Linked DNA regions of Homo sapiens. The protein of the gene in region 3 purifies or fractionates together with the protein of the main gene of each other region. This does not show direct contact. Each region holds a gene or a part of one and is shown on either strand. Other genes may lie near its edges.

What was found.
Region 1: the proteins of THRA (region 3) and CDK8 purify together in Homo sapiens (affinity purification with western blotting, with the first as the bait; one study listed by BioGRID). This does not show direct contact.
Region 2: the proteins of THRA (region 3) and IPO7 purify together in Homo sapiens (affinity purification with western blotting, with the first as the bait; one study listed by BioGRID). This does not show direct contact.

Annotation. Positions count from the first base shown.
Region 1 is NC_000013.11:26,348,037-26,351,688, reverse strand, and holds part of CDK8 (cyclin-dependent kinase 8), read right to left. Parts: intron 2,618-3,652; coding exon 2,507-2,617; intron 1-2,506.
Region 2 is NC_000011.10:9,440,000-9,443,651, reverse strand, and holds part of IPO7 (importin-7), read right to left. Parts: intron 3,198-3,652; coding exon 2,991-3,197; intron 1,572-2,990; coding exon 1,455-1,571; intron 1-1,454. UniProt on the Homo sapiens protein: Functions in nuclear protein import, either by acting as autonomous nuclear transport receptor or as an adapter-like protein in association with the importin-beta subunit KPNB1.
Region 3 is NC_000017.11:40,061,603-40,065,794, reverse strand, and holds the start of THRA (thyroid hormone receptor alpha), read right to left. Parts: upstream 2,831-4,192; 5' UTR 2,703-2,830; intron 1-2,702.

The DNA.
Region 1 (3,652 bases), on a different chromosome or scaffold from region 3:
AATGAACTAGTTATATGCACTGTACAATATTACCCACAATAAAATTTGCTGAAGTATAATCATTGTACCTACATGTAAAATTAAATATTACAAACTAGCAGCTAGAAATCACATTGAGTGAAATATTATACTATCTTCTATGCTCTACTGTGGTTTATCACAAATCTTGTTTATAAACCAGCCTGGAAAATGCCTTAAGTTTAAATTATATGACTTTATTTCTTATGAGGCTCAGCATAGTGAGTGTTCAATTTAATACTGGCCACGCTGATTTAACAGGGTTGATCTGATTAGATTTCTTTTAAAATAGAAGAACAGAAGAACCAAAGATTTAAAAAAAAAGAAGAAATTAATAACCAGCATGAACTTTGGAAAGAGTTTCATAAAAGAGAGAAAATTTCATGTATACATAATAAAAAGCATAGCCATGCTAATTTAGTAAATATAGATTAGTATGCAAATCAATACAATGTTTAAAGACATTATTAAATATCATTTAAAAAGCAGTTCACAGGAGTATAGTAATTCTTAATGAATTAACACAAGGTAATGTTAGATGTTTAGTTTACTTGTTTCTTAAACTATAATCTGTATTAACAGATGTTCTCTATACAGATTGATAAGAATGTCAATTTTGTTACTATGTTTCAAAATTACTTTGGCTATCCTATTATAGATTTTCTATATATATATCTCAAAGTTTTATCTGCAAGGTAACGTTTCAGATTTTTAAAAAATATATAAATGTTATATTTAATAAAAGAGCAAATTTTATAGTTACCTTAGAGTTCCTCAAATACCAATTTAAAAAATAATCTGCTTAGTAAACTGCAAAATACTGAGGCTGGTGTTTGTATTTCAGCTACTCAGACAAGATAAAATTAAGTTCTTATTTTACAGTAATTTTTTTCAATATAGCATCATTTTCTGCAATGCATTAGATAAACTAATAAACTGGCTGGGCTCAGTGGCTCAGGCCTGTAATCTCAGCACTTTGGGAGGCCGAGGTGGGCAGATCACCTGACATCAGGAGTTAAGAGACCAGCCTGGCCAACATGGTGAAACCCTGTCTCTACTAAAAATACAAAAATTAGCCGGGCTGGAGTGCAACAGTGCAAACAGGACCCACTGCAGCCTCGACTTCCTGAGCTTCAGCCCCATGAACAGCTGGGACCACAGCATGTGCCACTGAGCCCAGCTAATTTTTTTTATTTTTTGCAGAGACAGGGTCTTGCCATGTGACCCAGGCTTGTCTCAAACACTTTGGCTCAAGTGATCTTCCTGTCTTGGCCTCCCAAAGTGTTGGGACTACAGGTGTGACCCACTACACTTGGCCTAAAACTATTCTTATCATAGGTCAGAAAACAAAGAACTAAAAGTCCCAAGAGATATTAAAATTTATTTTCACACGAATCTTATTTTGTAATAGAGCTCTCATCCACAAAAAATTCCTCCAATGCAAGATTATGCCCAATTCAAGTAAGTACAATACAGTCATGCATCACTTAATGAAGGGATACATTCTGAAAAATGTGTCGTTAGGCAATTTTGCAGTTGTGTAAACATCACAGACTGTACTTACACAAACCTAGATGATAGACTCTACTACAAACCTAGGCTATATGTTATAGCCTCCTGCTCCTAGGCTACAAACCTGTACATGTTACTGTACTGAATAAGGAAGGCAATTGTGACACAATAGTAAATAAGTGTGTTATCTAAACATATGTAAACATAGAAAAGGTACAGTAACAATATGGTACTATAATCTTAGGAGACCACTATCATATATGCAGTCCCTAGTTGACAATAACATTATATGGCGCATGACTATACTGTATTGAACTACTGCCACTGAAAATAAGAATTAGGATATTAAATTCAATTGTGAATAGTTAATAATTAATAACAGTTTCCTACATTTGTATATTTATAAAACTTTTCAAATACAAGATTGTTCCTCAGAAAAACGTTGTTAAAAAAGGCAAGAAAGTATTACATTTTACAGATGGGGTAAACTACAGCTTCAAAGCCATTAAAAGACTTGCTTAATGCTATACGACAAATAATGGTAGAACTATTAGATCTCTCCAAAGATAGCATATTCGTCCTCCTACATGAGGATACCACCTTCTCATTTTATGTTCCCTTTATACAACGAAATAAAAGGAAATATGCTACTTTTCTATTTTAGAGCAAAATTTTATATATATTAGTTACTTTTTATTTTATCAAAAAACTATATGAAGCAATATTGAATAGTTGTTGAACACTCTTTAGATTCTATTGTTTTCTTTAGTATCTGTTAAAAGATCAAAGTGACAATATTGAAAAGTAATAATACAAAGTCAAATACTCTAGCCTTCGTCATGCCACCAACCACACTCTATGAGGTTACTTTTATTTTAAAAACATAAGTCTCATAATAAGCAGAACACCTAACTGTTTTTAGTTACTCTTAACAATCCCTGACTGTTTGCTCATGTCTGCCAGCAATTCACCTTACCCAGAGGTCATGTTCAGCATAGTCAAACAGAAGCCACACCTTCCTATCAGCATGAGACAGAAACACCTTTTGAAGAGAAATGACGTTTGGATGCTTAAGCTCTCGAAGTAACTGCAAAACAAAGGAGATGCATTAACTATTTCTGTCACAAAAATAATGTAAAAAACCCCACACCATTTGTAATTCAAAGGCAATACAAACCCACAGGTAAACAATCTTAAACATCTAATAAGCACCCACACAATTCTGAGACGGATACTTCAGTAACAAATGAGAAGATATCTGTGAGGAAAAGACACTGAACAGGTATTATCTGAGTAAATCTATTTTGTTGTTGTTTGGTTGGTTATTTTAATTTTTTGATTGTGGTAAAATATATCTAACATAAAAAGACCATTTTAATCATTTTTAAGTGTACAATTCAGTGGCATCCTATAAGTATATTCACAATGTTCTGCGATCACCACCACTATCCATTTTAGAATTTTTTTTGTCATCCCAAACAGAAACTCTGAATCCATTAAACCAGCGGTTCCCAACCTTTTTGGCATCAGAAACCATTTTTGAGGAAGACAAATTTTCCACGGATAATGGGGTGGAGGTGCAGGGCGGGGGCTGGGGGAAGGGGCAGATGGTGGATGGTTTCAAGATGAAACCGTTTCACCTCAGATCATTCATTAGGCATTAGATTCTCATAAGGAGCATGCAACCTAGATCCTTCACATGCGCAGTTCACAATAGTGTTCAAGCTCCTATGAGAATCTAATGCCACTGCTAATCTGACAGGAGGCAGAGCTCAGGTGGTAATGCTCGCTTGCCTGTGGCTCACCTCCTGCTGTACGGCCCAATTCCTAACGTACCGGTGCTGACGCAGGGACCCCTGCGTTACACAATAATCCCACCGCCTTTTTCCCCAAGGCTCTGGTAACCTCTACTCTACTATCTGTCCCTAAGAATCTTCCTAATCTAGATATTTCATGTAAGTGGAACCATACAATATGTATCCTTTCATGCCAGGCTTATTTCACTTAGCCTATTTCATTCTTTATGGATAAATATACTCCACTCTATGCATATCTATATATATATCTATATAGATATATATATAGATATCACATTTTGTTTATCCATTCATCTGTTGATGTT
Region 2 (3,652 bases), on a different chromosome or scaffold from region 3:
GGATTACAGGCATGAGCCACCACGCCTGGCCAAGTGTTTAAATTTTTTTTTTTTTTTTTTGAGACGGAGTTTCGCTCTTGTTGCCCAGGCTGGAGTGCAATGGCGCGACCTCGGCTCACCGCAACCTCCACCTCCCGGGTTCAAGCAATTCTCCTGCCTCAGCCTCCCGAGTAGCTGGGATTACAGGCATGCCTACCACGCCTGGCTAATTTTGTATTTGCAGTAGAGATGGGGTTTCTCCACGTTGGTCAGGCTGGTCTCGAACTCTAAACCTCAGGTGATCCACCCGCCTCAGCCTCCCAAAGTGCTGGGATTACAGGTGTGAGCCACTGCGCCCGGCTTAGGTGTTTACATTTTTAACAGAACTTTCTACTATCTAACCATCACCATGAGCTAAAGTTATTGCAAACTGAAAGTAGTCTTCAACTGTACTTTTTTTTGTTTTTTTGAGACAGACTTTTGCTCTTGTCACCCAGGCTGCAGTGCAATGGCGTGATGTCGGCTCACTGCAACCTCTGCCTCCTGGGTTCAAGGACTTGCCTGCCCCAGCCTCCCAAGTAGCTGGGATTACAAGCATGCGCCACCATGTCTGGCTGTGTTCTCTAGTTTTTTTTGTTTCTGTTTTTTTGGAGATGGAGTCTCGTTCTGTTGCCCAGGATGGAGAACAGTAGTGCAATCTCAACTCACTGCAACCTCCGCCTCCTAGGTTCAAGCAATTTTCCTGCCTCAGCCTCCTGAGTAGCTGGGAATATAGGCATGTGCCACCATGCCTGGCTAGTTTTTTGTATTTTAGTAGAGACAGAGTTTGGTCATGTTGCCCAGGCTGGTCTCAAACTCCCGAGCTCAGGCAATCCACCCACCGTGGCCTCCCAAAGTGCTGGAATTACAGGCATGAGCCACCACACCTGGCCCAATTATACTTAAAAATAAACAAACTGGGGCTGGGTGTGGTGGCTCACGCCTGTAATCTCAGCAGTTTGGGAGGCCGAGGCGGGCGGGTCATGAGGTCAGGAGATTGATACCATCCTGGCTAACACAGTGAAACCCTGTCTCTACTAAAAATACAAAAAATTAGCCAGGTGTAGTGGCAGGTGCCTGTAGTCCCAGCTACTTGGGAGGCTGAGGCAGGAGAATGGCATGAACCCGGGAGGTAGAGCTTGCAGTGAGCTGACATCGCATCACTGCACTACAGCCTGGGCGACAGAGCAAGACGCCATCTCAAACAAACAAACAAACAAACAAAAAAAAACGAAAAAAGCCAACTGTAGCCAAAGCCAAAATTAAGTTATCTTGAATTAAATCCCTCAGATTAGAGTTAATTCCTATCACCTGCAACAACTATACCTTTTATATCATCTTAAATGATAAAATTTAATGATATAAAATTAAACGATATAAAATTTTAAACCTATAAAAGTCACTAATTAAAGAGGAGTTACAGTTAATTAACATACCATGGGCTGCTCTTCTTTGATCAGCCAGAGTTGCTATGTCCTGTAACTGTTTTCTTTGTTCTTCATTAAGACCGTGAGTCAGTGCCTGATACCACACAGGATTACGATTTTGAATAGCTATCAAAAAATAAAAACAAGGGAAAAACAACATGAATAAGAGAGGCTTGGTAGCTCCGTTCTACACTATTCCTCCTACTCCATCCCGAGGCAATACTGAAATTCTGATCTATTTTATATTCTCCCAATAATTTTTAAAATTACCATATTTGTGAAACAACAGATATAGGAATAAAAATTAACTACAGCTTATCTTTATGGCTCCAAAAACTCTAATCATTCTTACGATCCATCTCTCCAGCAAATAAGGACTCAGCCTAACTAGTTCTTATATAGTAAGTAACAAACCAGGGAGACTTCAGGAATAAAGCTAACCCAACCATCTTAAAAGATTCAGAGCTAAAGCAACTTGAAAATCATCAAGGCTACTGTGGTACATGGGCCCCGTGTTAGGAACCATTCTTTAGGGACTGACATGTGGTGTCTGTCTACAAAGTACAAGGCACAGAAACAACAAGTTTGGCACCTCAATCAGTTCTTGCTGCCATGTAGCTCAGAAACCAGCACTTTGTGCTTCTGTAACCTTGCATCAAAACTGCCTTGTCATGGGCTTAGAAGACTCAAATCCTTGGTTATCAGATAATGTATTCTATCAAAAAATATATTCATCAGTTCCCAGTGCATAGGAAATGATATATAACAGCAATTAACTCTGAGAGGAAAAGATGTTTCAAATACAGGGGAAATTTAATTTCTTAACGTGGATGGTAAAACACAAATGCTATACCTTGTTGAAATCCAAGTAAATGATGGTAAAAACCAACCAGAACCTAGTATTCTGGAGCCACATACAATGACACATTATAGGAACAGTGGACTTTTCTTGGAATATTTAACAGTGTACGTGGCTCCAGAATCCTAGGCATATATAATTCAAAAATCTCAAGGTTAAATTAGTTGTTTAAAGCTAAAAATTTGATTATGCCGAAAGTGCTAATTTAGTAATAATAGATTAAATTAGTTAACACATCACAGAATATAGGAAAAAAAGAATTATAAGATCATATGCCATAAATGCTAATATACTCTTAACACGTTAAGTATAGGTTTGGGCAGGAAAAAAGGATACACACAAATAATAACATACAACAAACAGGTATACACGTAAGAGTGGTTACTTCTGAGGAAAGCTGGGAGATTGGGAATCAGAAGTAGCAAAGAGGCACTGTCACTGTATACTTTTTTGAACTACATTATTTTCCTATAATCTTCCAAAATTACAATCTAAATGTAAAATAACAGGATGAATAAAGAATACTCAGAAACTATGGCAACCTTAGAAATAATTTTGGTTACTTTGCCTAACCAGCCTTTTCTAGTCTGGGTTTGATATCCTCCAAACTCTTCCTTTAAAGGGCAGGCAGAAACTACAACAGATTTGTTCAATGAAATGGATCCACATGTAACAAGTTGACTTACTTTGAAAGATAGCTTTAAATATCTGATACTCATCAACAGGGTTATCTTCATCATCAATGATTGTGGAATAGCCTTCCAGAGCAGTCTCTTCAGCATCATCTTCTTCCCAATCTTCATCATCTCCATCTTCACCAGCCTGCTTAGCCAGAATCTCCAAATATTCTTGCCCATCTTCATCAATATCATCTTCATCACTCCCCAGTTCCTCTGCCAAGTCATAATATAAGTACTTTTATAACAATGACATATTTTGTTACTCAACAAATTGACAATCATCTCAATCACTGTCAGTAAATTACAAGTCACAAGTGACAAGAGAGAGCTCCAGGAATTGGTGTTTAAATACATGTTCAATAATGAATAGAAATGAAAATTTCCATAGGAGTCCAAGAAAACCAACCTTGATTTAATGTGTTCTTAATACTAGACATCTGAAAAAGAACTGCGCAGTATGAACACACTACCGTTACACCCACCAAACCTTTTGTAAGATTTTTTTTAAAAGGCTGGCTAAGTTAGTAAATGATAAAAGACAAAAATAGCAATAGCTATCTTATGTTGAAACCCTTATAATAATTTCTCTTAATATTTTATCAATTTATACACTGATAGTGTACAGTCTTATAGATAAAATGTATTTATCAACATTTAATTAACATAAT
Region 3 (4,192 bases):
GCAGTGGCTGACCCCCCCCCCCTTCCCCCATTCCCAGCCCCTAAAACTTGCTGGCCACAGCTGCGGCACTAAGGAAGTGCAGGAAGTCCTGAGCAGCCAGCTGAGCCCCCCGCCCCCCACCCCAACCTCAAGCTGACCCCAGAGGCTGCGCAGGGGGGGCAGAGGGGCGGAGCTTGGGTATTAACAACTGGAAAAGTATGAAGAACATTGCTGCCAGTCCCCAGCTCTGAGACAAGGACAGGGGTAGATCGGGGGTAGCAACAGGGTGAGAGAGAGTTACAGACTGGCAGAGAAACAAGGAGAGAGAGAGGGAGAATCAGACACTGCAAGACAGAGCAACAGAGAGACAGAGTTAGAGAGAAATTCCAAGTCAAAAGTACATATCACTCACACAGACACTCGCCAGCCGATGGCCTCTTAAGGAAAGCTTCCAAGTTTGGACAGGAGGGTACAGGTGGGAAAAAGGGCCAGACTCAAGGTGGGGCGCAGGAACTCAGCTGGAAGTGACTGACTGTTCCCAGGAAAGACCCAGGCAAATGACTCAGAGCAGGGGCAGTTAGACACCCCTGAGCTTTTAGGGTAGGGAGGAGAGCAGCTCTCCCCTTCCCCAACAGTCAAGAGAATCCTAGCTTCTAGAAGTCACTGGACACTGCTTTGAGCCCATGACTCGGCCCTCTGGAACCCCCCTGAACCCACTGTCTTTGCTCTTGTTTCTCTGTCCCTCTAAAAGAAAGAAAGAAAAAAAAAACAGCCCATTCCCGCACAGTGGCTGAGCCTAGAGGAAAAAGGGGAGGAGGAAGCTGAAGGGGAAAAATTTGTGATTGTGTGCATCTAAGTGTGTGCTCGGCTGCACAGGCTGCAGTTGTGTGTATCTGGGGTTGTGTGGACACGACTGTTGGTGTGGACCTGCAACTGTGGGGACCTGGGCCTTGTGAACTCATTCTGCACCTGAGTTCAGGGGACCATGTGCAAATGAGTGCACCTGTGTCTGCAGGTTCCACAGTCAATCAACTAACAAGTATTTACAGAGCAGCCCTTGTGCTAGGCTCTGCGTGGGATCCAGAGCTCTTTAAGTGATTCTCCCAGGTCTCCAAGAGCTCACTGTCTAGTAGGGTGGTATCTCAAGCGATAGAGACCAAGAACATGTCATTGGGAATGCATGCTTTACACCATTACGCAGGAACACTTTTTCATACAGCCAAATTTAATATTCTTGGGAGCAAGGGTTTTGTTGCCTACAGAACCTCAGAGCTCCACAGTAAAGAGTCCAGGAAAATACTTGTTGCTAAGTTGTGTATACATGTGTTGGTGTGTAACTGTGTTTGCATCTGACTGAGTGACAGCGACTGTCACGGCAAGCAATGATGTCTGTGTGACTGGGCTCATGCGAGCACGTGTGTGCCTGTGAGTGACAGGGTCTTTTGTAATTGTGCTGCTGTGTGCAATTGCTCTGTGTGCATGCATGCATGTGACAGTGACTTTTTATGTGTGGGTGACAGCAACTCCTCCTTGCCCCAGTGTGTGACAGCATCTACGTGTGACCCTGTGCGTGGGTATGTGCATGGATCGGTCCCCATGCTCTTGGTCTCCCATGGGTATATCCCACCCCTCAGAGCTCCACGGTGCAGCAGCAGCCTGTCTCTTCCCTTGTCCCCATGTGGGTGTGTCCAGTAGCTCCTGTCCTTGAGTCTGCCTGGGTGTCCCTGGATGTGCATGTGGCTGTCTGTGTGGACATATCTCTGTGTCTGCGTGTCACTTTTGCTTCCCCCCTCATTTTGGACAACAGCCCCCTTCATCCCCTCCCCCTCCTGGAGCCAAAGCCAGCACTGAGGGGCAGGCTCCCACCTCACTGGCTTTCCTTCTGTGTCCCCCACCCCCACCCCTGGAACGGTGGTTCTTTCAATTGCCCCTGTCATCCCCCCAGGCCTTTCTTTCACGCTGGACAAGGGAGGGCCCCAGATGGAGAAGGGGCACCAGAGACACGTTGCAAGGGGAGGGAAACAAGGTGGGGTACACACACACAGGTCCATTTCTCCCTCTCCTCCCCAGCCAGCAACTCTCCTAATCATCTAGGCACCACCAAGTACACCCCTTCCACACACACATTCCCCCCCAACAACCGCGTTTTTGCAATTAGCAGTGTTGCAACCAGACAGCCATGCTCAACCGGGAGGCGGGTGAGGCGGGGGAACTTCCCTCTCCCCGGACCCGTGCAAGCCCACCCGCGCCACCGCACTCATACTGCCCTCCGCAGCTGGAGGCAGCTTTGCAAAGGCCACTCGGGCCTCAGAGGCTAGGGGTGGGGGCTGGGGGGGCAGGCCTCCGGCGCACCGTAAACAAACCGCGGCGCGGCGGGCGGGGGAGCTCCGGCGGCCGGCAACGGGGCCCGGCCCGGGAATGCGCAGCAGACTGGCCGGACAGAGGCCGGGCGGGCCCTCCAGGGGGAGGCTCGGACGCCATCTCCGCCTGCGAACCCCGGGGCCCAGCGACCTCCTAGCAACACCTCCCTTCCCCAGGGCGTCAGTTGCAAGCTCCCGGGCTCGTGACAGGGTCACTGGGGCGCCAGGAAAGGCTGAGGCTGGCAGCAGGCACCCCCTGGGCGCCCCTAGCCCGCCTGGGAGCTGGCCACGGAGCCCCGCGGCTTTGCATAATCAATCGCAAGGCATTTGCATATTAATGCCCCCTCGCTCCCTCCTCCTTACCTCGGCGTGGCGCGCCGGACCGGGCTGGGCAGCGACGCGGGGGTCTCAGCGCCCCGTGCTGGGGGCGTCCATGGGGGGCCGGTGGGGCCCGGGCCGCCCGCCTCCTGCGCCCGGGTGTGAGTGCGAGTGAGCGCGGGGGGGGCGGGGGGCGAGTGTGGCGGCCCCGCGGCTCCTCCGGCAGAGGCGGCGGCCGCTCTGGCTCCTCCCTCCCCCGCCCCGCTCCGGCTGGGGCTCGGGCTCGGCGCGCCCGGCCGGCTCGCGGCTGCTCCCTGCAGGCCGCCTCGCCGCCGCCCGCCCCCGCCCCCCGCCCCCTGCCGCGCCCCGGGACCCCCGCCAGAGGTCCGGCCGCCCCTCGGCCGCCTCTGCCCCGCCCCGCTCGGACTCGCCCTCCCCAGCCCGGGCGGCTCCCGCAGGAGTGGGTACTTGGTGACATATTTTGGAAAAGATGTCATTAAAAAATAGCCTTTGCTTGCCGGGAGAATTGGGGGGTTTTCGGGTGTGCACCGTGAGGGTGGAGGAGGAAGTATCGACGAGCAGCCTGCACCTTATACATCGGGGAGAAAGTCTAAACACCAAACGCTTGCAGGTGTAGTTTGTTTGGGAGTTCGGGTCCCTTCTCCGCCGGTAACTCACTGTGTGACCTTGACAAATCGCCACTGCTGTCGGGGGCAGAGCTTCCTCAAGCTTCAGCTGCGAGGGCTGGGCAGGTGACCCCTGATGTCCTTTTAACTTCAATCATCTTACGTTTTTCATCCTTGTGGGGGTTCATTCCCTGTTACCTCCCTCCCCTCTCATTTCTAACATCAATACCGATCCACTGCCTCCCTTTTCCAACGTCACCCTTCTCCATATAGGCTCTTTCTATTCTCTGTCACCAGCCATTTCCCCCAACAATCTGCTCCCTCTCCTGAGCTCGGGGAGGGGACAAGATCTGCCATACCCCCTCAATTCCTAGCTCCCGGGTGGTGGTATTTCCCCCCATGTTTGCTCCCACAAAAATCCAAATGGTACCAGAGTCAATCTAAGGAAGACGGTGGGCTGCATACAAATGGACCCCCTAACCCAACCCAAAGGAGAGGTCTCCACCATGCCAGCCCCACCCCCAGCACACACATACACACACCACACACCTGCATTCATGGACATAAAACCAACCCAGTGACGCCAGAGCACCTTTCATCTCAGGATCTCCTAGCGCCAGGCCGAGCCCTAATTACCCCAGCACCCCCCTGGCCCCGCCGGTTCCCCTGCTGTCATTAGCCCAGTTTTACCAGCGGGGGCCACAGCCTTCCCACGGCTCTCAGGGTGGGGCCCTGGCTACATAGTCTGCTCTTGGGGAGGGGTGTGTGTGTGAGTGTGTGTGTGTGTAAGTGTGTGTGTGTTAGGGGGAGCTGCTCGGCTAATCGCCCAGTTTATACTGGGCAGAGTCACTTGGCGAGTGTGGGATTCTGAGCCACAGCTTACCCAAGTTGGGCTGCCCTTGCTCATGT